4 linked regions of the Homo sapiens genome follow. The protein of the gene in region 3 purifies or fractionates together with the protein of the main gene of each other region. This does not show direct contact. Each region holds a gene or a part of one and is shown on either strand. Other genes may lie near its edges. The genes, in order: CCDC85C, KIAA0319L, CD4 and ARV1.

What was found.
Region 1: the proteins of CD4 (region 3) and CCDC85C purify together in Homo sapiens (affinity purification with mass spectrometry; 2 studies listed by BioGRID and IntAct, with this or other methods). This does not show direct contact.
Region 2: the proteins of CD4 (region 3) and KIAA0319L purify together in Homo sapiens (affinity purification with mass spectrometry; 2 studies listed by BioGRID and IntAct, with this or other methods). This does not show direct contact.
Region 4: the proteins of CD4 (region 3) and ARV1 purify together in Homo sapiens (affinity purification with mass spectrometry; 2 studies listed by BioGRID and IntAct, with this or other methods). This does not show direct contact.

Annotation. Positions count from the first base shown.
Region 1 is NC_000014.9:99,600,809-99,609,156, forward strand, and holds the start of CCDC85C (coiled-coil domain-containing protein 85C), read right to left. Parts: upstream 3,400-8,348; 5' UTR 3,152-3,399; coding exon 2,359-3,151; intron 1-2,358. UniProt on the Homo sapiens protein: May play a role in cell-cell adhesion and epithelium development through its interaction with proteins of the beta-catenin family. May play an important role in cortical development, especially in the maintenance of radial glia.
Region 2 is NC_000001.11:35,546,863-35,554,485, reverse strand, and holds part of KIAA0319L (dyslexia-associated protein KIAA0319-like protein), read left to right. Parts: coding exon 1-136; intron 137-7,623.
Region 3 is NC_000012.12:6,799,214-6,806,836, reverse strand, and holds part of CD4 (T-cell surface glycoprotein CD4 isoform 1 precursor), read right to left. Parts: intron 7,300-7,623; exon of another isoform or gene 7,214-7,299; intron 6,766-7,213; 5' UTR 6,699-6,765; coding exon 6,650-6,698; intron 6,531-6,649; coding exon 6,366-6,530; intron 1-6,365. UniProt on the Homo sapiens protein: Integral membrane glycoprotein that plays an essential role in the immune response and serves multiple functions in responses against both external and internal offenses.
Region 4 is NC_000001.11:230,982,020-230,989,642, forward strand, and holds part of ARV1 (protein ARV1), read left to right. Parts: intron 1-6,300; coding exon 6,301-6,420; intron 6,421-7,623. UniProt on the Homo sapiens protein: Plays a role as a mediator in the endoplasmic reticulum (ER) cholesterol and bile acid homeostasis. Participates in sterol transport out of the ER and distribution into plasma membranes.

The sequences.
Region 1 (8,348 bases), on a different chromosome or scaffold from region 3:
CTCCCTCAGCTCAGGCCCAATCTTTGCTCAATTTAAAGTTACAAGTCCCAGAATAGAAAAGCCCAGTTTCACCAGGTGAGGTGGCTCATGGCTCTAATCACAGCTACTTGGGAGGCTGAGCTGGGAGGATCACTTAAGCCTGGGAGGTTGAGGCTGTAGTGAGCCATGAGTGTTCCATTGCACTCTAGCCTGGGTGACAGAGTGACACCCTGTCTCGAAAAAAGGGAAAAAAGAAAGAAAGAACAGCTCAGTTTCTAAGAGAAGGGCCTTTCCTGGTTTCCAAGCCTTCCATTTACATTAGTGGGACCACATCCCAAGGCCACACATGGCTTTAAGAGACAAAACTAAATAATAATAATTCCATCTGTAACCGAAATTTGTAATAATAATGCTGAATTTTCATTTCACCCCAAAGCAAGGTTTGCTGCCACAACATTTGCAGCAGTCCTGTGCTAAGTGGGCTTGGGGGAGGATGGGTTCTGTGGGAAACCCTATACTTCAACCTCCCACTGACCCCCAGTGGGGTGGAAAACTCAGTGTAGCCTAGTCCTCCACTCCTGTATTATTCACTGTCGCAGCTGACATGCTGAGCCAGACTGGGGCCGCATCTCCTTGCCCAAAACTCGACAGAGCCTTTCCTGCAAGTATGCTCTAAACACTCCAGCCCTCCAGTGTCCTGCAGAGAGGCACTCTTGCCAAGTGTCATTGATGACGCAGCTGAAAACCAGAAACATTTCACTTTCCAGCCACGAGACTGCAGCAATCTGCTCTTTGGACTGCACTTAGGGAAACCGAGGCCCAGATAACTGACCCCTCAAAAGCCCCCAGGACGGCAAAATCAAAGGGGCTGAGGTGCTCTGAACAGCCCCAGCAAATTAAACCACCTAACTTTGCGCTACTCCCACTGCCCTGAAGCAGCCTGTGGTGGGAGGTGGGGGTGGATACAGTGTTACAAAGAGAAACCTGAGTTGTAGCCATAGATTGCTAATCAGTAACAAAATATCCCTCTAAACCCAGTCCTGCCTTGAACCCACAGGCTCAGGATGGTAAATAAAGGAAAAACATGCTGCACTGCCCCTGCCCCACCTCCATGGGTATGTCTCCCACCCCAGCCCCCACCCCAACACGTCTGCAGAGGCCACTTGGCCACCAAACTAAGGAGAAAACGTCCCTCCCCAGCTCAGGCTGAGGGGTTCTGGGGAGGGCAGTTATTGCAGGCTTAGACACACTTTCTCTGAATTAGGAAAGGCTTTAAAGGGAACCAGAAAGAGCTGTTCATTCTCCACCTTCAGGCAAAAAGTTCAGGCAGTTGCAACTACCAGCAGAACTGGAAGCCAAGCTACCAAAAAACGTGGAAGAACAGGGAGGCCCCGGATCCACCAGCGAGGAGGAGAAAGCTGGCAGGGAGCAGAAGGGCTGAGCAGGGGGCTGGGAGAGGGAGCAGGCTGCAAGCTCCCACAGCCCCAAGCTGGGGCCACCCTCTGCACTGGGCGCAGCAGTAACATGGGCGTAGAAGACAGAAGCTGACAGAGGCCAAAGTTCCTCCCACCCACACCCTGGTCACGGATGACCACGGCACTTCCTGTAAGGCGATCAACAGTTTATAAATCCCTTCAGAAGGTTTATCTCCACCTCAAACCCACGAGGCAGAGGTCATCATCTCCATTTCACAGACAAAGAAACTGAGGCACACAGAGGAGAAAAGCTAGAATCCGTTCCAAATACATCTCCCTCGGGAAAGTCTTAGAGTCTCGGCTGAGAAAGGTCCCAGGACTAGAAGGGCGGAATTTATGGCAAACAAGAAAGGCTCTGAGCCCCAGGCCTCTCCCCAACTGCCTCTGGGTCTCAAGCGGCTGCCTGTGCACCTTCCCAATCCCCACACCCCACTGCAGAACTCCAGCCACCGCACACACGTGGACGCTGCTTGGTTTGGAGGACACCTGTTGCTGCAAGAGGGGAAATTCACTTGCGCTCAAGGGGCCTTGTATCCTTTGCTGTTTAGAACTTCCCGCTACTAGGCAAGGATTTCCAAGGCTGGGATGAGGCGCCCACCGCCAGCCCAGCAGTGACAGACCCTAATTTTGGCAACTACACCCGCTAGAAACTTTTCTGGGACCGGACCGGCAGCAGGTTCTGAGCTGGACAAAAAGACGCTCCACCACTGAACCGGCCCACCACCGCCCAAAGCCCCACTTTGGGTGAGTGCGGGATCCCCTGGCCCAGGATCCATGACAGCTGGAGGAGTCTGGAGTGGCGGCCGCATGAGTGGGACAGCCAGGGACCACCTCCTCTCGCCGCAGCCTGGGAAAAGGGCTGCAGCCAGGGAGACCCGCGCTGCCCGGCCCGTGTAGTCCTTACCGTGCAGGCCGTTGGGGATGCTGCGGTGGTGCGGCGGCGCCGACAAGTCGTCCAGGGACCGACGTGTGGCTCCTGCCTTGCCGTCGGGGGCCTTGTGCGGCCCGGGGGGCAGCAGCGGGGGTGGGACGTGGTGGTGGTGGTCGGGGCTGCCGCCGCTGCCCGCGCTGGACGTACTGCTGCCGTCGCCCACGTCGCGGGCCCCCGCGCCGGGCGCGCCACCCGACAGCGGCCCGCTCAGGCTGGCCTGGCTGTCGATGGAGCTGCGGGAGCCGGCGCCGCCCCCGCCGCCGCCGCCACCGCTTGCGGCCCCCGTCGCCGCCAGTGCCGCGCGCTCCTCGTCCAGCAGCAGCACCAGCTCCTTGAGCTCCAGGTTCTCGCGCAGCAGGGCCTCCTGGCGCGCCTCGAGCTCGCGCAGCTTCTGCTGCGAGCGGGCCACCTCGTGCCACACGGCGCCGGCCGCGTGGCGCCCGAAGCGCTGCCACTCGCGCGCCAGCTTGCGCCCCTTCTGCCGGTCGTCGTCGAGGAAGCAGCAGAGCTCGCGCAGCTCCTGGTTGTCGTCCTGCAGCCGCTGGTTCACGTCCTTGAGGCCGCGGATCTCCAGCAGGTGCTGCTGCAGCCGCCGGTTCACGTCGCGCATCAGGCCGCCGTGCTCCAGCATGAGGCCCACCTTCTCGCCCTCGGCGCGCCGCAGCCGCCGCGCCAGCTCCTCCTTGCTCCAGCGCAGCAGCTCCTCGTCCGGCACCTGGCTCAGCTCCTCCGACGCCGCCGCCGCCGTCGCCGCGGGCTTAGCCATGGCGGGGCCGTCACCGCGGCATCGCCCTCGCCCTCGCCCGGCCGGCGCTTCCCCGCGCCGGGGCTCCGCTGGGCCGGTCCGCGCGCGGGCGGGGGGCGGCCGGGGGCGCGTGCGGCCCGCCCCGCGCCGCCTGGCGCGTCCTCTCGCCGCGCCCGCCGGGGCCGCCCGGGAGCCCGCGCGCCTCGGGGTTGACGAGCGGAGGCGGCTGCTGCGTCGGCGGCCGCGGTGCCGGGCGCTCTCAGGGTTCTGGAGAAGCAGGCGGAGGCCCGCCCCCGGCCCAGCTCCCGGAGCCCCCGCCGCCCCGCCCACCCCGGGCGGAGAGTGGGCGGGTCTCCGAGGCCCGGCCCCGCCCCCGAGGGCGACTGGGGAGCAGAGGCGCGGCCCCCGCCGTCCCCCTGCGCGGTGCGCCCGCCCGTCCAGTGCCCTCTCAGAGGCGCGTTCCGGCCGCGGTCCCGCCCTCCCGGCCGGGCGATTGGGCCGCTCCGGGGGTGTGCGGGAGGGGCGGGGCGCGCGCGGGGGAAGCTGCGGCGGTGGTACGGTCCATCCGCGGGGTTTCCGACCCCCGCCCGCGGCCGGCTCCCGGCGGTTCAAGTTTCTGCGCCCGGAGGACGCGGCCTTAGCCAATCCCAGGGCTACAGGGCGCTTTTAAAATGCAGGTACGGCTGCGGGGAGGGGGACGGTGGGAAAGGTAGGGCCGGGCTTCCCTTAAAGGCGACGCGCGAAAATAGCAGTCGAGCCCCCTCCCCGGCCCGCGTCCCCGGTCCTCTTCCCTCTCCCCAGATAAACAAATACCCACGATCCGGGCGACGGCGCCCCTTCTCCCTCCCGGGGGCACCAGAGTTCAGGGCAGTCGGAGACACAGCGAACAATAGGACTGTGACATGGGGGTCGCTCTTCCCCGCAGCAGGGCGGCTCTTTGTCCCCTTCCCTGCCCCCAGGCTCCTCCGCCCCCGTCCCCACCCGGGTCCCCTGCCGGAGCACGCGGCGGGGCTGCGTCTCCACTCCTAGCCCAGGGCTGAGCTAAACGCTGGCGTCCGCGCCCCTGCAGGGCCAGGGCCTTGCCAGCCGCGTCCCGCAGCGCGGTCAGTACTCTCTGCCCCGATGGGGCGAGAGCTCCGGGAACCTGCCCCCTGCCCGGAGCGGCGCTCGGAGCCCCGCTCCACCTCCGCTCACTCGACCGCTAAATCCCTGGGATTCGGGAGATAATCTGCAATTCGCGGGGTGGAAACCACTGGGAAGGGTGGGAAGGTCTCCCACTGGGGCCTGAACGCCGGGGTCCGGGGGCGCCGAGCCGGCCACAGAACTCCCCACCGGCGGCCTCGCGGGACCCCCGGGCTTCCCACTGCCTGTAAGTCTGTCTCGTTATCCTCCGGTCCCCAAAGCGCATTTACGGCGCGTCTACCGCCAGCAGGCGGGGCGGGGCGGGGCGGGGGGGGGTCCCTCCCCCGGAACCTGCAACGAGATCAAATCCGCGCACGCGACAGTGAGCGGCCCACGGCCTGGAGCGCGCGCCCGCGCAGCAGCTGATGCCCCATTTACAGTTGCTAAGCCGTTCATTCAGCTGTGTACTCAGCGCCTACTCGCCGCGGGGCCTGCTCCAGCCCCGGGGGATTCTGCAGGGCACCGAACTGCCCTCTGCGGGGGACTTGGCGTCCTGGGAGCAGGATGGGGAGAAGATAGACGAGCTAGATCAGGATGAGACTTGTCTTAAGTGCTGTGCGGGGCATTAAGTCGAGCTGCTGTCATAGAAAGCATAATCAGTTGCTTTAGATCCAGCGGTCAGGGAGGTGGGGAGGCACATCTAAGCTGAAGTCTGATTGGCAAGGTACAAAGATAAGGGGAAGGGCATTCCAGGCAGCAGGAACAGCCAGTGCCAAGGCCCTAGGGCTGGCCTGTTACAGACCTGTTCCAAGAAGGCCAGTGGGGCTGGGGGTGGGCCAGGGAAGAGGCGTGAGAGCTGAGGTCAGAGGTCAGAGGGGCCAGATCATGTATGATTCCAAGACAGCTGGGGAGGCAGTGGGGTTTTAGCAGGGAAGCAACATGACCTGGTTTACCTTTTTAAGAGGCTCACCCTGGCCCACATGTTGAGAAGAGATGGAGGGGAGTACACAGAGAGGTCCAGATTCAATATCTCATCTCCCACCCGTTCGCCACTCTCTCCAGACAGATGGTCAGGGGAGGGTGGTGGGGAGAGGATGGGCTGAGCACAGCTTCCAAGGTTAAACCCCAGGGATGCTGAGGGTCTCCCAGGCCCTGCCCAAGAGAACCAGCTCCTGAGGGGAGGGGACATCCTCCCCTCTGAGGCACTGCTCTGCTGGTCCAGCACAGCTCAGTTTGGGTTTAGAGAGGGAGGGGCTTTCAGCTTCTGCCTGGGGGAGCTGCAGGTCTGTCTCAACCCCCAGGAAGCCATATTAACTTCAAGGAGCTCCTTGCAGGCTCCCTGCAGAATGAAGCCTGTGCACAGAGTTGCTCCCTGGAGATCGAAGCGTAAACGTTGGATACACCATAGGAAAAACCCACCAGCTCACCAGGGAAGTTGCTGAGACAGCACTGTGCTTTGTGAGAACCCCCTCCCCGTTCGTGCATGGCTCCTGGTGGTTCCTGGGGCCTGTTATCTCTGCCCCCTGATCCTCCAGAGCTGGCAGCTTCCGCTGAACTTCCAAGAAGAAAGTGAAGCCTCTATCTAGGTGGGGTTTGTTTGCGTCATCTACAGGCTGTGTGGACCAAGGACCAAGAGTTCCTCTGTGGAGTCTTGATAGCTTTGCTCACATCCTCAGGGTAGAACAAAGACAAGGTGCTAGTGGTGGTGGTACTGGGTGGTTTGAGGGAGGGTCTCTCTGCTCCCCACACCAGGGCTGGGAATGCTTGGGCAGAACAGGACAGGACCAGAGGAGGTGAGAGGGCCCAGGGCTGAAACAGCGTCCTGAAGGAAAAGGGACTCCCCAGGCCAGAGCCCCCTCCCGGAGGGCCCATATCGCAGGGTCCAGCAGTAGGTGCCATGCCCCCTGGAGTACTCACAGCCCAACAGAACCAGGATCCCAAAATGTCAACGTGACTTTGCCTTTTTTTTTTTTTTTTTTTTTTTTTTGGCTAAGACAGGGTCTCACTCTGTCTCCCAGGCTGGAGTGCAGTGGCATGATCTTGGCTCAGTGCAGCCTCAACCTCCGGGCTCAAGAGATCCTCCCACCTCAGCCTCCTGAGTAGCTGGGACCACAGGCACCACCATGCCTGGCTATTTTCTTTTCTTTTCTTTTTTCCCCCATAGAGACAGAGTCTCACTGTGTTTCCCAGGCTGGTCTCAAACTCCTGTGCTCAAGCAATCCAATTCTCCTGCCTCAGTGACTTTGCTTCTTAAGCCCCTTGGTCATGACAACTCTGCTTTGTTATGAAAACAGTGAAACCAAATCATGGTGCACTAACAGTCATACTGTAGGTGCCCAGGGAAAGTAGCTGTGAGTCTTTTCAAAATAAAGGTGCCCCACCAACATTCTACCCCCCTTTTTTTAAAGACTCTCCCAGGATGTGTGTGTTCATTTAGAGCCACACACATTTGTGAGAGCCAGCAGGGGCTGAGAACCGGTACGCTAACACACGGTAGATGCTAATACATGGTAGACAAAATACTCCAAAACCTAGGGCCTGTGGGGGGAGTACTGGTACAAGCTGGTGACAAGCAGAGTGTGCCCCTCACTTTCAGGGGGAATGGACTTTCTTACTCTTCTCTATGGTTGGGGCTGTGAGCTCCAACCCCAGAGGCAGTACCATTTGGTGTTTGCTGAGTGAATGTCAAACCTCTCAGTACGTGACAGATTGAGTCTGAGGCTTCATTTTGAAGGTGAGGAAAAACAGAGCCCCAGAAGGGAGATGCCTGGCCCAAGGTCACTTTCATTCATTAGCTCACTGAACATAGAGGAAATCTATGAGTATATATGCATTTATACACAAACACATTTAAATGGGAATATATATATACACATTGCAATGCATTGTGGTAAGTACTGCAAATGAGAATGGGCAGAACACATCATTGTGGGAGCATGCTCAGGCACTGGGAGTGGCTTCCTAGAGGAGGTGAATCTTGAAGGAGTTTGTCGTCTTGTGGAGTGGGGAGGAGGCTCCAGGTGGAGGAAGCAGTACAAGCAAAGGCCCAGAGGTGAGCAGGCGAGGGGTGTGGAGAGACACTATTACACCTTGCAGCTGGGGTATACAGAAGGGAACAGCAGGGTGGGGAAAGTCGGGAAGAGGTTGAGCGATGGAGCTGGGCAGAGGAGGGCTTTGTAAGCCTCAGAAGGAAGCTGGACCCTTTCCCTGGGAGCTCTGATATCTAATAATAATGGCAATGACAATGACAATAACCAACACCACCTGCCGCTTATCCTAGACTCAGTATATGCCAATGATTCTAACCTGTCCTCTTTTGAGGGTTATAATAAACCTATGAGGAGGTGTCATTAGCCCTTCGAGGATTGAACATGGGTTCTTATTGGCTGGTTGTTTGCCTCCAAGAAGCTCAGCTCATTGGGCGTGAACTTACAGGCAGTGTTCAGAGGCTTGTGGACACCCAAGGACTCTGGTATGGCCAACAAAGTGTTTGGTGGTAGCTGAATCTTCTTCAGGACAGTGAGGCAATGGTGGCTGACCAGGTCTGGGCCAGACTATGAGGTATCATCCTGAAAGGCTACCAGCAGCAAGAAGTCAGGGTCCACTGAAAAGTGGTTAAGTGTTACTAATATGGACAATGTTGACTGGGCACTTTCTAGGTACCCAGCACTGTGCTAGAGTTCCACATAGATTGTCTCACTGACTCCTCACTGATGCGGTAAGAACCCTCTGTTCCCATTTTACAGAGTAAGAAACTGAGGCTCACACAGGTTAAGTCACTTGCCCAAGGTCACATGGCTAGCAAGTGGCTGAACCAGGATTTGAACCCAGGACCATCTGAGCTCCAGAGTGTATCTGACCCCATAGACTACTGTCTCCCACACCTCAGTTTCCCTTCTCAAGAAGGAGGAATGGGGTGGATGCTCTGCGATGTCTCTTCTGCTGTGACTCTGGTTCTGTGATGCTGAGTGTCTGCAAGGTGCCTGGACCCATGTTCACCACCCACTTCCTCCTGCTTCAGGCTTTTCCATGTTGTGACCAAGCCTCAGTGGCTCTGACGCCTCTGGATGGCACCTGTGGTCAGAGCTCTCCAGCT
Region 2 (7,623 bases), on a different chromosome or scaffold from region 3:
AAGAGGCTGGGAGTCAAGCCAAATCCTGCTTCCTGGATTTTATCAGGATATTATTGGCAGACATCTGCGAAGTGGTTGAGAAGCCTGTACCTGTTTTATACTTGCTTTTGCTTCAGCGTTCTGTGGTTGTCAACAGGTACTATTTTCTTTATAGATTTAAGATTTTTTTTTTTAGAAAAGGGCATTTTATGTGAGTCCCTCAGTTCATTTTAAGGACTATTAGGAGGCAGAAAAAACAATCTGCTAATTGACAGAAATGGTCATCCTTTTGGTGACTGAGGTCTGTTGGGTTTATTTATTTGTTTTGTTTTGGAACCAGAGTTTAAATTGGATTCTTTTTCATAAGGGAGAATTGGCACAACCGTTTTAAGACTTGATAAAAGTCAACTGGGTATTTCCACTTAATGACTATAAAACCTTGAGCAAATTACCTATTATCTTTGAGGAAGGGTTATTATCTACCTCATGGTTTGATTTGAGGGATAGTATAATTAAAGCATGTAGCACAGCACTCAGCATGGGTGCTTAGTCTTGCTATTTGCCCAGGCTGGTCTTGAGCTTCCTTTCCTTTCCTAAAGGAATCTACACTTATGGGAAAAATGCGTTCCTTACTTTTTCCATAGAGAGGGGCTATGTTGATAGATTTTTTAGACTATGCTTTCCTCCTAGAGATTATTTCACCAGGGTAAAGCCTCTTGCCAGGAATCAGTGCCAAGAAGGCTAAATTTCAAAGGAGAATGCCCTTTCTTTCTTTCTTTCTTTCTTTCTTTCTTTCAAGTTCTTTTGTTGATATTGTGCTTTCATAGTATGAGTGTGAGAAAACAGCAATATGAGAAAGATTTCTGTGTATGCTGCCATTCTGGCCAGTGACCAAAAACCTTCTGCTGTAGAGACCACCATCTGGGATAACTAATCAGCCTTTTTCCCTTATAATTACAAAGATTTCTGTTGCTTTCCTAAAGGAATTGGTGGTCATGATTTTGAGACCCTAGTAATTATTGTATTTAGCAATTTCAGTAACATCAGCTTTGGGGTTTTTGTTGTCTTGCAGTGATGGTTGATGATTGCATAATTATAGCAGTGGAAGTTGTACTTGACAGAAAGCTGATCTACATGGTTTTTTTTTTTTTTTACCCCAGATGATGCTTTGCTGGGACAGCTGACTATTTCAGGTCAACATTTTATATAAGATCATTAGAATTAAATAAGTAATTGATTTAGCACCATCAGAATAGGGAAAAATCACTTCTTTAAAAAAAAGAGATGGGGTCTTGTCACCCAGGCTGGAGTGCGATGGTGCCATCATAGCTGCCTGCAGCCTCAAACTCCTGGGCTCAAGCTGTCCTCTTGCTTCAGCCTCCAGGCATGAGCTAGTATGCCTGGCTAATTTTTTTTTTTTTTAAGACAGTGTCACTCCATCATCTAGGCTGGAGTGCAGTGGCACAATCTCGGCTCACTGCAAACTCTGCCTCCCAGGTTCAAGCGATTGTCCTGCCGCAGCCTCCTGAGTAGCTGGAATTACAGGCGCACACCACCACACCCGGCTAATTTTTATATTTTATCCTTTTTATATTTTAGTAGAGGTAGAGTTTTGCCATGTTGGCCACACTGGTCTCAAACTCCTGACCTCAAGTGATCTGCATGCCTCGGCCTCCCAAAGTGCTGAGATTACAGATGTGAGCAACTACACCCGTCTGCCTGGCTAATTTGTACATTTTTTTAGGAGATGGGGTCTTGCTGTTTTGCCCAGGTTGGTCTCGAACTCCTGGCTTCAGTCGATCCTCCAACTTTGGCCTACTGAATAGCTGGGATTGCAGACACCAACCACCATGCCTGGTGTAAATCACATTTTTTGAAGCACACCTACCACATACCAGACTCCTAATTGTAAACATTACATACCTTATCTCATTTAATCTTCATGATAACCCAAAAATAGATAGTTTTCTTCTCATTTTATAGATAAGGAAATTGAGGCCTAGAGAGGCAGAATGACTTGGCCAAGGTCACACAGCAAGAACATGGTGGAGGTAGGATTCTAAATCCAGGTTTGTCCACTGTAGAGCTCATACTCTTTCTCTTCTGGTACTCTGCCTTCCAACCATAGGGGATGTTTTGGAGGACCAAAGGTTTTTTTTTTGAAACGGAGTCTCACTCTGTCACCAGGCTGGAGTGCAGTGGCGCAGTGCGATCTCTGCTCACTGCAACCTCCGTCTCCCAGGTTCAAGTGATTCTCCTGCGTCAGCCTCCCGAATAGGTGGGACTACAGGCGCATGCCACCACACCCAGCTAATTTTTGTATCTTTAGTAGAGACCAGGTTTCTCCATGTTGGCAGGATGGTCTCCATCTCTTGACCTCGTTATCTGCCCATCTTGGCCTCCCAAAGTGCTGGGATTACAGGCGTGAGCCACCATGCCTGGTGGCAATTTTTTTTTTTTTTTTACCCAGTACCATGGTAAGCAGCTTCCTATTTGAGGGATTCAAAGTATAGAGGATGAAGAAGCAATTCCAAGTCTTTCTGTGCTTTCCAATCTAGCACTTGGTTAAACACAGCATTGTAGGCTCATTGTGCAAGTCTTTAGTAACCTTGAGCTTGGTGCTTAAAAACAGCACCCTAATTAAGTATAGAAGTGCAAAGGTGGTGGTGTTAGGTGTAGTTCTGGTGGGGATTAGGTTATGCCAGTTCTATTTTAGAAAAATTTGGAGCTTTTATCATGGAAATTAAAAGATCAAGAGCCATGTATGTTCAAATTGAGGGAACATGCAAGCAACATGTGACAGACATATTTGTTATATACTTTGATTTAATTGGAGCTCCTTCCCATTTTTTTTTTAAAAGGAATATCCTAATAGAAAAAATAAATAGGGCTGGGCGCGGTGGCTCATGCCTGTAATCCCAGCACCTTGGGAGGCCGAGGCGGGTGGATCACCTGAGGTTAGGAGTTCAAGACCACCCTGACCAACATAGTGAAACGCCGTCTCTACTAAAAATACAAAAAATTAGCCGGGCGTGATGGCATGCACATGTAATCCCACCTACTCAGGAGGCTGAGGCAGGAGAATCGCTTGAACCCGGGAGGCGGGGGTTGCAGTGAATCAAGACCGCACCACAGCATTCCAGCCTGGCCAACAGAGCGAGACTCCATCTGAAAGGAAAAAAGAACAAATAAATAAAAGGCATAAACAGAGTGCCATAAATAAGAAGTTAAAATGAATATATTTAAAATGTTCGTTCTCATTACCAATCAAAACGACAGATTAAAATGAGATATCCTTTTAAATCTATCATATTGATGAAAATTAAAGTAAAACTATCCAGTGCTGCCAAGGGGTGATGTGGTTGTCCTCATATAGTGCTGAGGAGTTTGAAAAGAGAACTTCTTGGCATAAATATCAAGAGCCCTAAAAAAATTCATATTTTTCGACTTAATTCTTCATTTAAGAATTTATCTGAAGGATACACTTAGATAGTTGTGAATGAGAGCACTGATCAACAGTCATTTATTCTGTGCTGCAAAATATTGCTGAAACCTGCTTAATTATAGGAGAGTGGTGAAATCTTTGCATCTCCACATGGTGGGATACTATCCAGTCTTAAAATTCATATTTTAAAAGAAAAGCTGGGTGTGGTGGCACACGTCTCTAGTCCCAGCTACTCGGGGGCTAAGATGGGAGGATTGCTTGAGCCTAGGGGTTTGAGACCAGCCGGCAACATAGTGAGGCCCTGTCTCTTTAGAATTAAAAAATGTTTAATAATTTAAAAAAAAAGTACACGGGAAAATGCTCCTAATATTAAATGATAAAATCAAGTTATGCAACTACATATTCAATATGCTGTCAATTTTGTGAAAAGAAGAAAAAATTATGTAATAGAAAACAGTCTGAAACAAGATGTACAACTAAATATTTATGTATTTTTTTGACTAGAGGAATTATTATCTCTTCATATTTTTCTGTGTTTTCCAGGCCTTTCTTTGGTATACTTGTATTCCTTTTTATATAAGGGGGAAAACAACCTACTTGAAAAAGCAACAACAAAATAATAACAGCAAAAACCTATTGGTGGGAGCCTGAGTCAGTATTTCTCTACTCATGAGTTTACTCAGTGTTTACCTGAGTGTTTACATTTTTTTCCGATAAAATACATTCTTGATTCCTGCTGTTATTTAGCTCATGGATTATTTCTGAAAAACTAACCAAATTAAGGCAGCTCTGCAGTTATCCTCCACTCCCGCTTACCACTTAGGAGTTTGCTCCATCTTTGGTAGAGCCCCAGGCAGCTGTTGACTTAGACATGGTGAGCTTTTTTATTTCCACTTTTGGGTTCAGTACTGAAGCCCTACTGTTAGAAAGCATTGATTACAATTTGATAAAAGATGGTCTGTCTGTGTTTTCCTTGTGTGCCATGGAATGGCTATTTTTCTGTTTAATTTTATTGTTAAGTGGCTTGAAAAATAGTGTTTTGGACCTGGGGATTCTCATCTGGAGACAAATAGGAAGTGATCCCAGGAGTTTTGGAAATTCCTACAATAGATTGTCAGCTTCTTGAGAGCAGACATGTTGCCTCTTTTAGTTATGCTAGATATTCTTAGCGGGTACCAAGGCACATAGTAGATGCATAAAATATTTGTTGACTGAATAAATTAATAAATTACCAATAAGGGAATTGTTCTTTGAGAATTAAGCTTTAAAAACAACAAAATCAGAGCAGAGATATGGAAAGGCACTTTAAGGAGACCAATGCTTTTGAGACCAACAAGATTGACTAAAATCTTAACAAATATATTAACACATACAAAGAAAGAATGTATACATCTGAAGAGTTATGTGTGCATGTTTGTGGGGGATGCAAGGACCTAATTGGCCCTAGAAATCTGAAACAGGGAGAATCACTGAAGCCAATGTCCTTAGGCCCAGAGCTAACAGTTGGCTATGAAAACTTGTACTGACATTTCCCTACCTCTGGGAAGGAGATTATACAGTTAGTTAATACGTATTTTGAGTACAGAGATAAATTATTCAATTCAGAACCATTTTTTGAGAACTTACTAGGAGTCTGCTTCTAGACTAGGCACCAGGATAATAAAGATTAGTACAATACAATCCTTTCTCTGGAATAACTACCAGTAGCAAGTGAAAAGGTAGAGGCCAGGTGCATTGGCTTATCCTAGCACTTTGAGAGGCTGAGGCAGGAGGATCACCCGAGGCCAGGAGTTCAAGACCAGCCTGGACAACATAGTGAAACCTCATCTCTACAAAAATAAAAAAAATTAGCTGGTGGTGGTGGGCACCTGTAGTCCTAGCTACTCGAAAGGCTGAGATGAGAGGATCACCTGAGCCCGGGAGTTCAAGACTGCAGTGAACTGTGATCATGTCGCTGTACTCCAGTGTGGGTGACAGAGGGAGACCCTGTCTCTTAAAAAAAAAAAAAAAAGATGCAACGCACAGAGTGCTACTGGAACCGTAGGAGAAGCATTTAGCTTGGAGGCAAAGAGGGTGCTCTAAGGAGTTCTTTCTAGAGAAGCATCTTCTAGAGAAGCTGATGCCTGAACAGAGTTGTGAAGGTTGAATTTGAAGGATTCAAAGGGTATTCCCATGCAATGGGAATGCAAGAGCAAAGGCACAAAAGTGAAACAGCCTGGTATATAGAAGAAACTCCACAAGCAGTTTAGCACTACTGGAATATAAAGAGCAAAGCTGGTATGGCAGCTCCAGAAGAGGTAGGTGGTGGCTAGGTCACAAAGGATCTTGTATGCTATGCTAAGAAGCTTCAATTTTAAACTTTTTAGGTAGATGGTCTATAAATTTTTTTCATGATGCACTTTAATCCATTGAAAAATTGAGAATGTACCCCTGTATATAAATTTATACATTATAACACGTAATTTTATACTAATGTCTTATATATGTGTAAGAGATGCCAAAAACAAAATGTTAAAGGGATTGACAGAAGCAAATATGAAGAGTTCTAATATTTTCTTTTCATGCCCGAGGGATTTGTCTTGTGCACCTCTTAAGGCAAACACTATAATACTTTAATGCTAGTATTAAATATAAAACTATTAATACTGTATTAAATATACTATAATACTGGTAAATTTCTGAATAATTTTTGCAGGAGTATAGAAAAGTGGTAATTGTGGAGATGGAGATGGATGGAAAAGGGAGGGAGGTCAGGGTTAGAGGTTAGGGTATCCATTAGCATGTTAATGAAATAGTCCAGGAGAAAGTTGATGAGACTCTGTCTTCAAGGAACCTCTCAGTAATTTCATTCAATACAAACAAGTAGAGGTAGTCCTAAAGAGATGGGTAGAATTTAGATGTTCTGTAGTAGAGAGATTAGAGGAAGTTTTTTTTTTTTTTCGAGACAGAGTCACACTCTGTTGCCCAGGCTGGACTGCAGTGGTACGATCTCAGCTCACTGCAACCTCAGCCTCCAGGGTTCAAGCAATTCTCCTACCCCAGCCTCCCGAGTAGCTGGGACTACAGGGGTGCACCACCACACCTGGCTAATTTTTGTATTTTTAGTAGAGATGGGGTTTTGCCATGTTGCCAGTCTGGTGTCAAACTCCTGGCCTTGAGCATTCTACCCACCTTGGCCTCCCAGAGTGCTGGGATTACAGGCGTGAGCCACTGCACCTGGCCAAGAAGTTTTTTAAAATTGAGATATACCACTATCTAATTCCAGAACTTTTTTCTCACCCCTAGAAGAAGCCCTGTACCCATTAGCAGTCACTCCCTATCCTCTCCTCCCCCAGCTACTAGAAACCACAAATCTGCTTTCTGACTCTATGGATTTGCCTATTCTGGACATTTCATAAATGGAATCGTACAATACGTGGCCTTTTGTGTCTGGCTTATTTCATTTAGCATAATATTTCCAAGGTTCATCCATATCCTAGCAGGTATCAGTACTTCATTTCTTTTTATGGCTGAATAATATTCTGCTTTATGGATATGCCACTTTTGTTTATCCATTCATCAGTTGATGGACATTGGGTTGTTTCTACTTTTTGGCTATTATGAACAATGTTGCTCTTAACATTTATGTATACATTTTTGTGTGAACATATGTTTTTAATTTTCTTGGATATCTGTATATATAAATACATGTATTTACATATAAATAGTACAATTGCTGGATCATGTGTATATATATATATAATGTATATATGTAATTCCACTCCACTATATGTATATATCCAATTGCACTATAGTAAAATATATATGCAATTTATATATAAATATATATGAAATAAATTTATATATAAATGGAATTGCTGGATTATATATAATCACGTATAATATGTATAATTATATGTAATTATATATGTATATATTACATATATAAATAGTGGAATTGCTGGATCATATATATAATATATGTAATAATATATATGATCCAGCAATTCCACTATTTGTATATAAACATGTAATAATATATATATGATCCAGCAATTCCATTATTTATATATGTATATAAATTTATATATAAAATTTCACTTTTATATATATATTTATATATAGGAGTGGAATTGCTGGATGTTATGGTAACTCTTGGTTTAACTTTTTTGAGAAACTGTTTTCTATAGCAGCTGCACCATTTTACATTTCCACCAGTA
Region 3 (7,623 bases):
TGCCATTTTAGCCTCCCACCAATATTGGAAGAATGACCCAGTTTCTCCACATCCTCATCAGCATTTGGTGGTGTTCCAATTTTGTATTTAGCCATTCTGATAGGTTTAGTGATAGCCTATTGTGGTTTTAATGTACATATCCCTAATGATTAATGATGTTGAACAACTTTTCATGTGCTTATTTGCCAACTGTATGTCCTTTTCGGCCTGTTTTCTAATTGAATTGTTCATTTTTTTGGTTTTGAGTTTTGAGAGTTGTTTATCATATTCTAGATACCAGTCCTTTGCTAAGTATGTGGATTGTGAATATATTTTCTTATATTCTGTAAACTGTCTTTTCTTATTATTCTTCTTTTTTGATATAGGGTCTCGCTCTGTTGCCCAGGCAACCAGGCAACATCTTGGCTCACTGCAACCTCTGCCTCCCTGGCTCAGTGATTCTCCCACCTCAGCCTCCTGTGTCGTTGGGAATACAGGTGCACCCAGCCTGGGTGACAGAGCAAGACTCTGTCTCAAAAATAAATAAATAAATAAAAATAAATTTTAAATATATGTGTACACACACGTGTGTGTATAGATGTATATTCACAATAAATAGATGTATATACATCTATTCACCTGTATGTGTATATATATGTGTATATACTTGTGTATGTGTGTGTGTGTGTGTGTGTGTGTGTATGTACCTTTTTTTTTTTTTGGTAGAGACGGGGTTTCCTCATGTTGCCCAGGCTGATCTCAAACTTCTGGGCTGAAGTGATCAGCCTGCCTCAGCCTCCCAACGTGCTGGGATTACAGCGGTGAGCCACTGTGCCCAGCCTCTTTTCTTCTTCTTAATAGGGATTTTGCAGAGCAAAATTATTTTGGTTTTGTTTTTGTTTTTGAGACAGGGTCTCCCTTTGTCACTTAGGCTGGAGTGCCAGCTGGAATGCAGTGACACAATCATAGCTCACTGCAGTCGTGAACACCTGGGCTCAAGCGATCTTCCCACCTCAGCCTCCCAAAGTGCTAGGATTACAGGTGTAAGCCACTACACCTGGCCAACTTGTTTATATCTACAAAAAATCTTGCTGGTATTTTTATAGGAATTGGATTAAACTTGTATATTAATTTGGGGAAAATTGATATCTTTCTTATGTTGAGTCTTCCAATCCATCAATCCATGAGTACAGCATGTCTCTCCATATATTTAGATCTTCTTTGACTTCTTTAATCAGCATCGTGTAGTTTTTAGCATACAATTCAATGCTTTCTTTTTTCTTTTTTTTTTTTTCGGGAGACAGACTCTTACTCTGTTGCCCAGGCTGGAGTGCAGTGGAACAGTCTTGGCTCACTGCAACCTCTGCCTCCCGGGTTGAAGCAATTCTCCTGCCTCAGCCTCCAAAGTAGCTGGGATCAGGCATGCGCCACAACACCTGCCTAATTTTTGCATTTTTAGTAGAGACGGGGTTTCACCATGTTGGCCAGGCTGGTCTCAAACTCCCGACTTCAAGTGATCCGCCAGCCTCAACTTCCCAAAGTGCTGGGATTACAGGCATGAGCCACTGCACCTGGCCCTACGCATGTTTTTTAGATTTACACCTAAGTATTTCTTTCTCTCTTTCTTTTTCTTTTCTTTTCTTTTCTTTTCTTTTTTTTTTTTTTTTTTTTTTGAGATAGGGTCTTGCTCTCCTACCGAGGCTGGAAAGCAGTGGTGTGATCATGGCTCACTGCAGCCTTGCCCTCCTAGGGCTCAAGCAATCCTCCCACCTCAGCCTCCCCAGTAGCTGGGACTACAGGCATACACCATAATGCTCAGCTAATTTTTTTTTTTTTTTTTTTGAGACGTAGTCTCACTGTGTCACCCAGGCTGGAGTGCAGTGGCACAATCTCAGCTCACTGCAAGCTCCGCCTCCCAGGTTCACGCCATTCTCCTGCCTCAGCTTCCCGAGTAGCTGGGTCTACAGGCGCCTGCCACCACATCCAGCTAATTTTTTGTGTTTTTAGTAGAGACAGGGTTTCACCGTGTTAGCCAGGATGGTCTCGATCTCCTGACCTCATGATCCGCCCGCCTCAGCCTCCCAAAGTGTTGGGGTTACAGGAGTGAGCCACTGCACCCGGCCATGCTCAGCTAATTTTTTACTTTTTGTAGAGACAAGGTCTCACTATGTTGCCCGGGCTGGTCTTGAACTCCTGGGCTTAAGCAATCTTCCCACCTTGGCCTCCCAAAGTGCAGGAATTACAGGTGTGAGCCACCATGCCTGGCCTTTTTGAGCAATTATAAATGGTATTGTAGTTTTAATTTCTGTGTACACATGTTCCTTGCTAATATATAGAAATACAATAGATTTTTTATGTTTATCTTATATTCTGCAACCTTGATGAATTCATTTATTAATTCTAAGAAGTTTCTTACAGATTCTTTGAGATTTTCTATGTAATCATGTCATCCACAAATAGGAACAGTTTTATTTCTTTCTTTCTGATCAGTTTTCCTTTTATTTCATTTTTCTTGCCTTATTGCACTGGCAAGGGATTGCAGTATTATGTTGAATAAGAGTAGTAAGAGCAGACATCTTTGTCTTATTCCTGCACTTAGGGAGAAAGAATTCAGTTTTTCACCATTAAATATAATGTTAGTTGTAGTAGGGTGGGTCTTTTGCATTGTGTGTGTGTGTGTGTGTGTGTGTGTGTGCTTTTTATTTTATTTATTTATTTATTTATTTATTTATTTATTTATTTATTTTGAGACAGAGTCTTGCTCTGTCGCCTAGGCTGGAGTGTAGTGGCGCGATCTCAGCTCACTGCAACCTCTGCCTCCTGGGTTCAAGTGATTCTCCTGCCTCAGCCTCCCAAGTAGCTGGGACTATAGGTGTGTGCCACCACACCTGGATGACTTTTTGTATTTTTAGTAGAGGCAGGGTTTCACTGTGTTAGCCAGGATGGTCTTGATCTCATGACCTCATGATCTGTCCACCTCGGCCTCCCAAAGTGCTGGGATTACAGGCGTGAGCCACCACTCCTGACCTTTATTTACTTATTTATATTTTATTTATTTATTTATTTATTTTTTGTGATGGAGTCTCACTCTGTCACTCAGGCTGGAGTGCAATGGCACGGTCTCAGCTCACTGCGACCTCCGCCTCCTGGGTTCACGCAATTCTCCTGCCTCAGCCTCCTGGATAGCTGGGATTACAAGTGCCCGCCACCACGCCTGGCTAATTTTTTGGTATTTTTAGTAGAGACGGGGTTTCACCGTGTTAGCCAGGATGATCTTGATCTCCTGACCTCGTGATCCGCCTGCCACAGCCTCCCAAAGTGCTGGGATTACAGGCGTGAGCCACCACGCCCGGCCCCACAAGCAATTCTTATAATAACACCTTTCCATAGATATTATTAAGTGTTCACTGGTCAGGCGTGGTGGCTCACACCTGTAATCCCAGCACTTTGGGAGGCCAAGGTGGGTAGATCACTTGAGGGTAGAAGTTCCAGACCACCCTGGTCAACATGGTGAAACCCCATCTACTAAAAATGCAAAAATTAGCCAGACATGGTGGTGCACACCTGTAATCCCAGCTGCTCAGGAGGCTGAGGCAGGAGAATCACTTGAACCCAGGAGGTGGAGGTTGCAGTTAGCCGAGATCATGCCACTGCACTCCAGCCTAGGCGTCCAAATGAGACTCTGTCTCAAAAAAACAACAAAAAAGAATATTCACAATTTTATTTCTGTCAAGTAGACTTTCCAAAATAGCTATTATTAGGTCCAAGGGTTTTAGAGTTTTGTATTCGTTAAACATTGCCAGATTACTTTAAATAGTTAGTCTAGGCCGAGTGCGGTGGCTCACACCTGTACTCCCAGCACTTTGGGAGGCCAAGCCGGGCTGATCACGAAGTCGAGAGATTGAGACCATCCTGCTAGCATGGTGGAACCCTGTCTCTAATAAAAAAATAAAAAAGTTAGCTGGGCATGGTGGCACGTGTCTGTAGTCCCAGCTACTCGGGAGGCTGAGGCAGAATTGCTTGAACCTGGGAGGCAGAGGTTGCAGCGAGCTGAGATCGCGCCATTGCACTCCAGCCTAGGTGACAGACCGAGACTCCGTCTCAAAAAAAAGAAAAAAAGTCTAATAATTGGTAGTCTCATTATGATATAACTTAAGGAAGGAGTAGGAAAAAAGGTATATACAGTATGATATCATTTACGTAATTATGTATATAATATTCTCCACGCCGAACAACAGTGGAAGAAAATAGGCCACATGCAGTGGCTCATACCTATAATCCCAGCACTTTGGGAGGCCAAAGCGGGAAGATCACTTGAGCCTAGGAATTCAAGACCAGCCTGAGCAACATGGTGAAGTCTCATCTCTACAAAAAGTAAAAAATTAGGTGAACATGGTGGCGTGCACCTGTAGTCCCAGCTACTGGGAAGGCTGAAGTGGGAAGATCACTTGAGGCTGTGATGTGTTGTGGTCATGCCACTGTACTCCAGCCTGGGCAGCAGAGTGAGACCCTGTCTCAAAAAGAAAAAAAAAAAAAAAGATTGGAAGAAAATCAATCAAAATGTTAGCAGAGGATATCTCTGAGTGATAGAAGTATGCATGCATTTGATTTTCTTCCATATTCTTTTCTTCATTGACCAAATATTTTGTAATGAGCATATAATAGTTTTAAAACCAGGAGAAAAGGCCAAGTGCAGTAGCTCATGCCTGTAATCCCAGCACTTTGGGAGGCTAAGGTGGGAGAATCACTTGAGGTCAGGAGTTCAAGACCAGCCTGGCCAATATGATGAAAACCGGTCTCTACTAAAAATACGCAAATTAGCCGGGCATGGTGGCACACGCCTGTAGTCCCAGCTACTCAGGAGGCTGAGGCAGGAGAATTGCTTGAACCTGGGAGGCAGAGCTTGCAGTGAGCCAAGATCATGCCCACTGCACTCCAGCCTGGGCAACAGATCGAGAGTTTGCCTCAAAAAAAAAAAAGTAGAAAAAAATGATTCTGGGCCGGGCACAGTGACTCACGCCTGTAATCCCAGCACTTTGGGAGGCCAAGGAGGGTAAATCACGAGGTCAGGAGATCAAGACCAGCCTGGCTAACACCGTGAAACTCTGTCTCTACTAAAAGTACAAAAAATTAGCCAGGCATGGTGGCATACGCCTGTAGTCCCAGCTACTCGGGAGGCTGAGGCAGGAGAATCACTTGAACCCGGGAGGTGGAGGTTGCAATGAGCCAAGATCACGCCACCGCACTCCAGCCTGGGCGACAGAACGAGACTCTGTCTCAAAAAAATAAATAAATAAACTAATAATAATAATAATAAATNTGCAGCTTTTTTTTTTTTTTTGAGATGAAGTCTTGCTCTGTCACCCAGGCTGGAGTGCAGTGGTGCAATCTCAGCTCACTGCAGCCTTTGCCTCCCAGGTTCAAGCGAGTCTCCTGCCTCAGCCTCCTGAGTAGCTGGAAGTACAGGACTGCACCCCCACACCTGGCTAATTTTTGTATTTTTAGTAGAGACCGGGTTTCACCATGTTGGCCAGACTGGTCTTGAACTCCTGACCNCCGGTGATCTGCCCACCTCAAACTCCCAAAGTTCTGGATTACAGGTGTGAGCCACTACAGCCGGCCTTTTTTTTTTTAATTAAAAAAATTTTTTTTGGCTAGGCATAGTGACACACACCTGTAATTCCAGCACTCTGAGAGGCCAAGGTGAGTGGATCACTTGAGCTCATGAGTTCGAGACCAGCCTGGCCAACATGGTGAAACCCTGTCTCTATAAAAAATACAAAAATTAGCCTGGCATGGTGGTGCATGCCTGTAGTCCCAGCTACTTGGGAGGCTGAGGTGGGATGATGACTTGAGCCTGGGAGGTGGAGATTGCAGTGAGCCGAGATCACACCACTGCACTGGAGCCTGGGTGATAGAACTAGACCTTGTCTCCAAAAAAAATATATATATATTTTTTTTCATAGAGACAGAGTCTCACTATGTTGTTCAGGCTGGTCTTGAACTCCTGGACTCAAGCAATCCTCCGGCCTCAGCCTCCCACAGTGCTAGGATTATACATATGAGTCACTGTGCAAAGTATTATCTACATAGGTCTGTAGCAACAATACTCAAGAAATCACGGGTTTTAAGTGATAGTGATTGTTCTAAAACTCACTAAAATAAGTTCATGAATATTAAATATTAAAATATTGAAATTCACATACCACCTTTCCCTGGGCCACCAGCAGTTGGTGTAGAGAAACTCTGGATAAGAATGCCACTGAGTTTCTGTCAACCCAAGCCCTCTGGGATCCCAGAGTTTAACTAAGACCAGATCTCAGACACCAAAGGCTTTCACTCCATAGTGTGTTTTCCTCCCTGGATGGGGAGCCAGGCAACCCTACCTTTAGTTAAGAAGGAGCCCTGATTTCCCAGAATCTTTATCTGGTTGGAGTTTTTCCAGTGGAATTGTATGCTCTTCTTCTGGGAAGCTGTACAGGTCAGTTCCACTGTATCCCCTTTTTTGCCCAGCACCACTTTCTTTCCCTGAGTGGCTGCTGGGAGGAGCGCTAAGTGGAAAAGAAAGGAGTCAGGTCTCAATGTCGCCGCTGTCCCCCTCTACCCCATCCTCCACCTTTGCCTTTCCTCCCACGTCATCTGCATTGAGACCCCAGGTCTGAGAACTTACCCAGTTGCAGCACCAGAAGCAAGTGCCTAAAAGGGACTCCCCGGTTCATTGTGGCCTTGCCGAGGGAGGCAGGGGCCTGAGCCAGTAGGGACCTGAGCCCACAGAAATGGCAGGGCCTGAGGGAAATGCCAATCATTAGTCAGCAAACATTTACTGGACCTGGAGTATACAGGGGCGATACACAACCTCTCCCTCAGGACCCTTGCAGCCAGCCTAGTGAACTTGAGGCAGGAGAATAGCAGAGGGAATTGGAGGTTGGATTAAGGAAGGAATGAGTAGGAGCAGAAGCAAGAGAAAGAGGCAGGTGAGCAAAAACAGAAGATAAATAAGTGAATAAGGAGCCCCATGGCTGGCTAGATCCAAACCAAACCAGTTAGGAGCAGCTCCTAAGAGATGGGCATATACTAGGCTGGGTGCGGTGGCTCATGCCTGTAATCCCAGTGCTTTGGGAGGCCGAGGTGGGTGGATCACTTGCGGTCAGGAGTTCGAGATCAGCCTGGCCAACATGGTGAAACCCCATCTCTACTAAAAATACAAAAATTAGCCGGGCGTGGTGGCATGCACCTGTAGTCTCAGGTGCTTAGGAAGCTGAGGCAGGAGAATCACTTGAACCAGGGAGGAGGAGGTTGCAGTGAGCCAAGATTGCACCACTGCAAAAAAAGATGCACATGTACTACAGAGAAAAGATATCCTCAAAATGACCCCGTATAGTAATTAGCTACTTAAGGTTCATGCCTACAGAGTGCATATCATGCATGTACTTAAAACTATGGGAAGGAAATGACACGTAAACACACAGAGGCCAAGAAACTAAGCAACCCACCTGTCAACCAAAAGGCACATGCTGGCTAAAGCTTAGGCAGCTTGAGGAAAAAGAGAAAAAAAACACATAGAAAAGGCCATGAAATATAGCAAAGTGATGCTGATACCATTCGCAGGTCATCCTTGATCCATAGTGGATCGTACTGTGCTTA
Region 4 (7,623 bases), on a different chromosome or scaffold from region 3:
CTTCTTGTAATCTTGTATATAATTGACTTAATGTTGTGTGTCTTCTCCTACTGGAAAGTAAGCTACACAAGGACAGACATTCTCTCTGTTTTATTCATTAATGTAGCTGTATCACCCAGAACAGCGACTGACATTTAGTAGCCACTCAGTAAATGTCTGTTGAATAAATGTATCACTTCCAGGTTTTTAGATTAGCATATGCTTGGCCATCCAGGTAGGAGGAAGAGAACAAGATCTTATATGTGGTCTAAACTTAATAACTTTTGGACTGGTCCAATTAAATGGTCAGTTTGGAAGATGATAACCACATAACTGAATATGGTCTGAAGAAAAGCTGGTATTTGTATATGCATTTTAGTTAGTAGTCTTCAATAATACAAAAAATCTCTTTTTGTTGGCATTAAGCTAACAAAATCCCTTTGCTAAACAGCAGGTGTTTATTTTGTTTATGGAAAGGCAAAATAATTATTGGATAGCTGTTTAGGTCAACATTCACTTACCCCCTCCCCTTTGTTCCCTAACATGATACTCTTTCTCCCAAGAGATGGACTTTGGAGTTATATTTGGAATATTGAATGGTGGCACAGTACTTTATGGATTCGTTATTGTCCACAGTCATTCCATAATGAGACAGAGTGTCTAATGGCCTTGTCGCTATCATGCTAATGCATACTAAACTTTAGGCCATAATAGCACGACTCAGGGAAAATCATTTTGTTGATGCCAGACTAAAAAATTAAACCATGAAGCAATGAATTATTTTAAAGGCCCTCCAACCTCTGAGATACAAAAAGTAAGAAGTTTTTAAACATTAGACCATGTGTTGTGACATAATCTCCAGAGTTTCTAAGTGGTTACTCATATATACTTTGGTCTCTTCCCTGCCGAACTTGGAGTCAGCAAGATCCTCAGCCTGATCGCCCACGTGTATTTTTCATCCCAATCTCCTTTCCTTTTGCTCTGCTTGTTTCTTCACTGCCATTCCTCCCAGCTTGCCTTTCTGTGTTTCTCTGACTTTCCTCTAATATATCATGTGTCCCTTGCTTTTAACCAATCCTGCTGCTTCAGCTCTTCACAATTTATTATAAGTACGCTTAAAGATACAGTACTTTCGGCCTAGCACGGTGGCTCATGCCTGTAATCCCAGTACTTTGGGAGGCCAAGGCAGGCGGAGCACGAGGTCAGGAGTTCAAGACCAGCCTGACCAACACGGTGAAACCCCATCTCTCTAAAAATACAAAAATTAGCCAGGCGTGGTGGCGCACTCTTGTAATCCCAGCTACTCGGGAGGCTGAGGCAGGAGAATCTCTTGAACCCGGGAGGCAGAGGTTGCAGTGAAGCTGAGATTGCGCCACTGCACTCCAGCCTGGATGACAGAGTGAGACTCCGTCTCAAAAAAAAAAAAAAAAAGTACTTTTTATTTGCTATAGGGCTTGGCTTATTTTAAGTGCACAGATATTTAACAAATTCATTATTATGTTAACAAAACAAAACTCCTATAAGAGTCTCCTAAGTTTCCATTTCCTTCAGCACTACAGCATTCGGCTCCCACCCTTGGGATCCTAGATGCAAAGATGAATAAGACACAGCCCTACCCTTGAGGAGCTTAAAGACTTAAAGAAGGGAAGGGAATGCTCCTAGAGATGACAGGAAGGAAACAGCAGGAATATTTATGAAAAAAATTGGTTTGGCCGATTTATATTCTAAAAGAGATCTGATTCATTAGGCATTGGAGAACACAGCAGGACAGAGGAAGTCATATCCATGTTTAGACAGGTGATGGAAGCAGCCTGAATTCCCAGAGTATGCTTGGTCCTTGCGTTGTAGGGATTCTTTAGAGGAAGATTTTTCTCTTTTCAGGATACTTGCCTATAAAGTAGTAAATGAAACAATTTTGCCAAAATAAGAAACATAGGAAACATAGTTGCTAAATCTGGGCAGGCGTGATGATTCACACCTATAATCCCAGCACTGTGGGAGGCTAAATCGCAGATCACTTGAGGTCAGTAGTTCAAGACCAGCCTGGGCAACATGGTGAGACCACCCCCTGTCCCCCACCCATCTATACTAAACTACAAAAATCAGCTGGGCATGGTGGCACGCGCCTGTAGCCCCAACTACTCAGGAGGTTGAGGTGGGAGGATCACTTGAGCCAGGGAAGCAGAGGCTGTAGTGGGACAAGATCCTGCCACTGCACTCCAGGCCTAGGCGACAGAGTGAGACCTTGTCTCAAAAAGGAAAGAAAAGAAAAGAAACATATATACTAAATTGAATAAATACAACTCCCAGTGGTCTGCTTTGGGATGTCTACATTTGTTTGTTTCGTGTGTGTGTGTGTGTGTGCGTGTGTGTGTGTGTGTGTGTGTGTGTGTGTGTGTGTGTAGTTTTCCTCTTCACATTCAAGGTGAAGGCAGAGGGAAAGGAAGTTGCAAGCAGCACTTAAGGGAAAAGCAAATAATAGAGGGAGAACAAGGAAAGTGAGGTGTAAACTTGTTGTGCCCAGGGGTGTTAGAGAGAACGCCACACTTTGAGACGAATTAAGAGTCCTTTATTAAGCCGGCGGCCAAAGAGACAACTAATGCTCAAAATTCTCTCGGAAGGGGCTTGATTAACTTTTATATCTAGGTTTAGGAAGGGGAGGGGGACTCAAATGCAATAATTCTACAGAAGTAAAAACATGCAAGAATCAAAAGAAGCAAAATGGTTACAGAGAGATAAACAACTTAAAAGACAAATGGTTACAAGAAGAGCAACGGTACCAGGTGCAAGGTTCTAAATCCTTCATTATAATTAGATATAGGGTCTATGCCGGACACGAACTCAAGGTTTTATGTTGTTATCTCTTTGAGAAAAATCCTGGGAACTTCATACATTGTTGGTGTTAGTACCTTATCAGTTAATTGGGCTTTTTTGAAATGCTGATTATCTGTTTACCCAGGCCAACTCCTTACGGAAGGGGGTTGGGTAATGAGCCCTTAGTGTCTTGTAAATTAAGAGGTCAATTGGAGTTTGTCCGGCCTTCCCAGCTAGAGAGAGTCTTACTTACATGAGAAGCAAAGCTAGGTGATTAAAGAGACAAGCAGGACAAAATTCAAAGTAACGAGTTAGAGTAAAAACAAGGTTAGGCGTTTCAAACTGACTGAGAGGGAACCAGCAAACTTTAATGACTTCTCAGCATTTATAAAACATGCCGAATGCTAAGAAGGGAAATGGGCAAAGCACACAGCATATCACATACTACCAGAAGCTGCCTCCTCTGTTTGATTTCATATCACCCTGTGCTTATCCCATTGTAGCCGTTGGATGTTACATAGTCTGATGACTGTGGTCATGAGACCATATCATAGAGGCATGTTTGTCTTCTGCTTCTAAACTGTTAGATCCTTGAGGATAGAAACTGTGGCTGAAGGTGAATATCTAGCACCTTGGAAGTTCCTGGTCCATAAAATGGCCAAGAAAAGAGAACGATTGTTATACATGTAATAGCCACTCCAAAGACATTTGTCAAACAAATGAATGCAAAAGGAATAACAGCTGCTGTGTCTCCTGGTGCTGGTTTCTGCCTACCTCCTTCCAAGTATTGTCCAGATCCCCAGCCTTAGACTTGTGATGCTGTCCAAAAACGGGTTTTAGAGAATATTTAAAGGACAGAGAGAGGACCCCTGACTTTTTAGGGTTTCCATTTTAACATGAAGCAGCCTCTCTGGTGTCCCAGTCTTGCATGTAGAAAGGAAGGAGATGTGTTCCATGTGAGTAGCCAAGGGAGACCTATCAAACAGCTGTTTGTCATGGACATGGAATTTCTGATTCTGGGGCTTCTGTTTAGATTCTGGCTTACTCCCTGCTCAGGTAAAGAACTGCAAAAATATTAACTCCTTATGCGTCAGTTTGATTAAGCAGAATTTTTTTTTTTTTGAGACGGAATCTTGCTGTGTTGCCCAGGCTGGAGTGCAGTGGCGTGAACTCAGCTCACTGTAAGCTCCGCCTCCTGGGTTCACGCCCCATTCTCCTGCCTCATCCTGTAGTTGCTGGGACTACAGGCACCTGCCACCACGCCCTCCTAATCTTTTTGTATTTTTTTTTTAGTAGAGATGGGGTTTCACCATGTTAGCCAGGATGGTCTCGATTTCCTGACCTCGTGATCCACCTGCCTCGGACTCCCAAAAGTGCTGGGATTACAGGCATGAGCCACCATGCCTGGCCCTGATTAAGCACATTTAAGTTTGAGGTAACAGCACGTCTCCCTTCATTGGATCACTCGGTAACTGGAAAACATACCTATTCTTGTAATGACACAAATGAAGTGGAGAAGCTATTTAAATTGGGAACACATCCAATGTTTTATTACATTTGAATTGCAGGGTCGGTATTCTTCAGTGCCCTTCATTTTTCTTCCAGCACTTTAATGTAATTAAAAGGCCAGCCTAGAAGGTTTTTACACTCGCAACTCTTCTATTTTATCTTCTCAGAGTTTCCAAATGTTATGCGTTTGAATTGTAGCCATTCCAGTAGTCCCCGTTCTCTTTGGGGTATATGTTCCAGGACCCACAGTGAGTGCCTGAAACCACAGATAGTATGGAACCCAATTACCATCCATCGGAACACGTTTCTGTTCGTGCCTTCCACCCACAAATGTAATACTTTTCCTATTTTTTTTTTTTTTTTTTTTTTTTTTTTTTTTTTTTTTGAGAGAGAGAGACCGAGACAGGGTCTTGCTTTGTTGCCCAGGATGGGCTCGAACTTCTGGCTTCAAGCGATCCTCTCACCTCGGACTCCCAAAGTGCTGGTATCACAGATGTGAACCATGGCACCTGGCCCTGCCTTTTCCATCTTAGCACTTCTCACATACTGTGGCCTTAATTTTTGCAGTTTGAAATGCCACAGCAAAACTAGCACAATTTCTTTTCTTTACAGTTGCACAGGTAGAAGATTCATTCTTACTGTAGATCTTAACCTCAGCATAAGATTGGTTTTTTCCTTATTAGTTGAGAACTTTCACCTTTTCACTTAAAGGATTTTACAGCTTCTCTTTGGCTGTAAAATTGCCAGCATCACTACTCTCATGCTTTGGGGCTATTATTAAGTCAAAGAAGGGTGACTTGAACCACAAGCACTGCAGTACTGCAATCCTCAATCCTGTTAACCTGGACAGCGACTAGATGACTAACAGGCGGGGAGCATCTGCAACGTGGACACGCTAGACAAAGGGATGATTCACATCCCGGACAGTGGAGCAGGACAGCATGCAATTTAAAACTTATGCTTATTTCTGGATTTTTCCATTTCATATTTTCAGAATGCTGTTGACCTCGGGTTACAAACTGCAGAAAGCAAAACTGTGGCTACGGGAGGACTGCTGTAGTTTTATAAAGTGAATGGTAGCATTGATGCATTTTTGTGAATAGTACTGCTTTAGAGGTCACATTTCTAATGAGCTTGTTTGTGTATACCTGCGTTTTTTATGTTCTAGTGATGTTGGAATTTGGTAACATTGTAATCACATGTGTCTAGAGAATCTGAACTCAAAATTGGTGACCCTTCAGGGGGGAATAAAGCCATTTAATGTGAACTGCTAAGAGCCAAGGGAGCCTTGATTCTGGAACCTAGAGCTAGGCTGCACAGCCTAGTTCCTTGCACAGCCCAGCACTCTCCAGACTGTACAGACAGTAGAGTCTGTCTCTACTCTAGCAGAGAAAGACCATTTTCTTTCCATATCCTTGATGTTACTGGAGAAAAACCCAGGCTTCCCCTGTTACCGGCCACCTCAGGATCATTCGGATCATGCCCCATTCTTTACCTACTTGCAGCTCTCAGTAGTTCTGGGGACAAGGTAACTGCTGAGTACTTTTCTCCAAATCATGTGCCAAGAACCATAAAGTCAGGGGCATCTAGCCAAGAGGCAACAATTTATCAATGAAAGTGCATTATAAATATATTTATTTTGTAATAATTGCTACAAATTGAAAGTGGAATTGGACATAGAGTCTCTGTAGATTGAAAGTAAAATCTTCTGGAATACTTTCCTGCCTAAACTCAGTCTTTAAATTAGATATATTTTTAGCTTCTTGAATATGACGTTAAAATATTAATATTCCTAGCCTAGAAGATTATATTTAGTCCTTTCTGAAACCCTTTCTTATATAGATGAACATTTTGTATCTGAATGGAAGTTTATATAAATAATTGCTAATATGGCCATATTGCTATCTGTGTCCAAAATAGACTCTGCTGTTTTGAAATCCTTGAGGATTTCAGAAAGTATACATTTGCTTGTTCTAATATTATCTTGTATTATTTCAGAAATCCTGCCAGAAACCTGTAGACAAATATATCGAGTATGATCCTGTTATCATCTTGATTAATGCTATATTGTGCAAAGCTCAGGCCTACAGACATATTCTTTTCAATACTCAAATAAATGTAAGTTGTGATAATTTCATTTTTTAATTTTATTTGATGCTGTTACATTTTAAAAGAATAATAAGAATTTTAAACAGAAGTAAAGAATATTATAAAAGAGGAAAAGAAATTCTAATGTGAGAGTGGGTCTTTTATTGCAACATATCTGGAAGTTTCTAGAAATAATAGATGTTGATTTTGAAAGGTGCACAATGCTTAGTGAGTGTTTAAGAATATGGTCACTGGCAGGAAACTGACAAGCCATGATCTGAATTACCTGCTAGTAAATTGAAACAATCATCACTGGTTTTTAACAGAATACAATTAGACATATCCAGGTAGGGAGAGAATTATACCTAAATGAGTTAAGCAAACATTAAAAGAAAAATGTTTTTTTAAAACATAATTTATTGCATTTTATACTTTGCTATTAAAGGAATGTATAAGGTAAATAACATTCAGTTTAATCAAAGTCCTGATTTATAAAGTTGAATTTTTCAAAATAAACTTTTAGTTTATTGAATTGTGAGCTCTTTAATAGTTTGGGTAGAGTTGACAGATAACATACAGGACAGTCAATTAAATTTGAATTTCATATATACCATGAATTAATTTTTTAGTATAAGAATGTCCCAAATATTGCATGGAACATACTTATACAATAAAAATGGATTCATGGTGTGTGTGAAACTCAAATTTAACTGGCGGTCCTGTTATTTTATTTATTTATTTATTTTTGAGACGGAGTCTTGCTCTGTCACCCAGGCTGAAGTGCAGTGGCGTGATCTCGGCTCACTGCAGCCTCTACCTCCTGGGTTCAAGTGTTCTACTGCCTCAGCCTCCCAAGTAGCTGGGATTACAGGCACGCATCACCAAGCCCAGCTAATTTTTGTATTTCTAGTAGAGATGAGGTTCGCCATGTTGACCAGGCTAGTCTGGAATTCCTGACCTCAAGTGATCCTCCCACCTCAGCCTCCCAAAGTATTGGGATTACAGGCATGAGCTACTGTGCCCAGCTCTTCCTCACTTTATATTGATGGAGAAAGTTCAACCTGAAGGAGGAATACATAGAAAAAAGCCAATTTTTGTTGCCTAGTATTTTTTATTTTAGCCAAAATTTCAGACTTTTAAGAATTAGGTTTTAATTGTTCTCTTTTAACATATTGAGTCATACTCATCCAGCTGGAGATATTTTTAAAAAACTGATGTTCAGACTAATAGTTT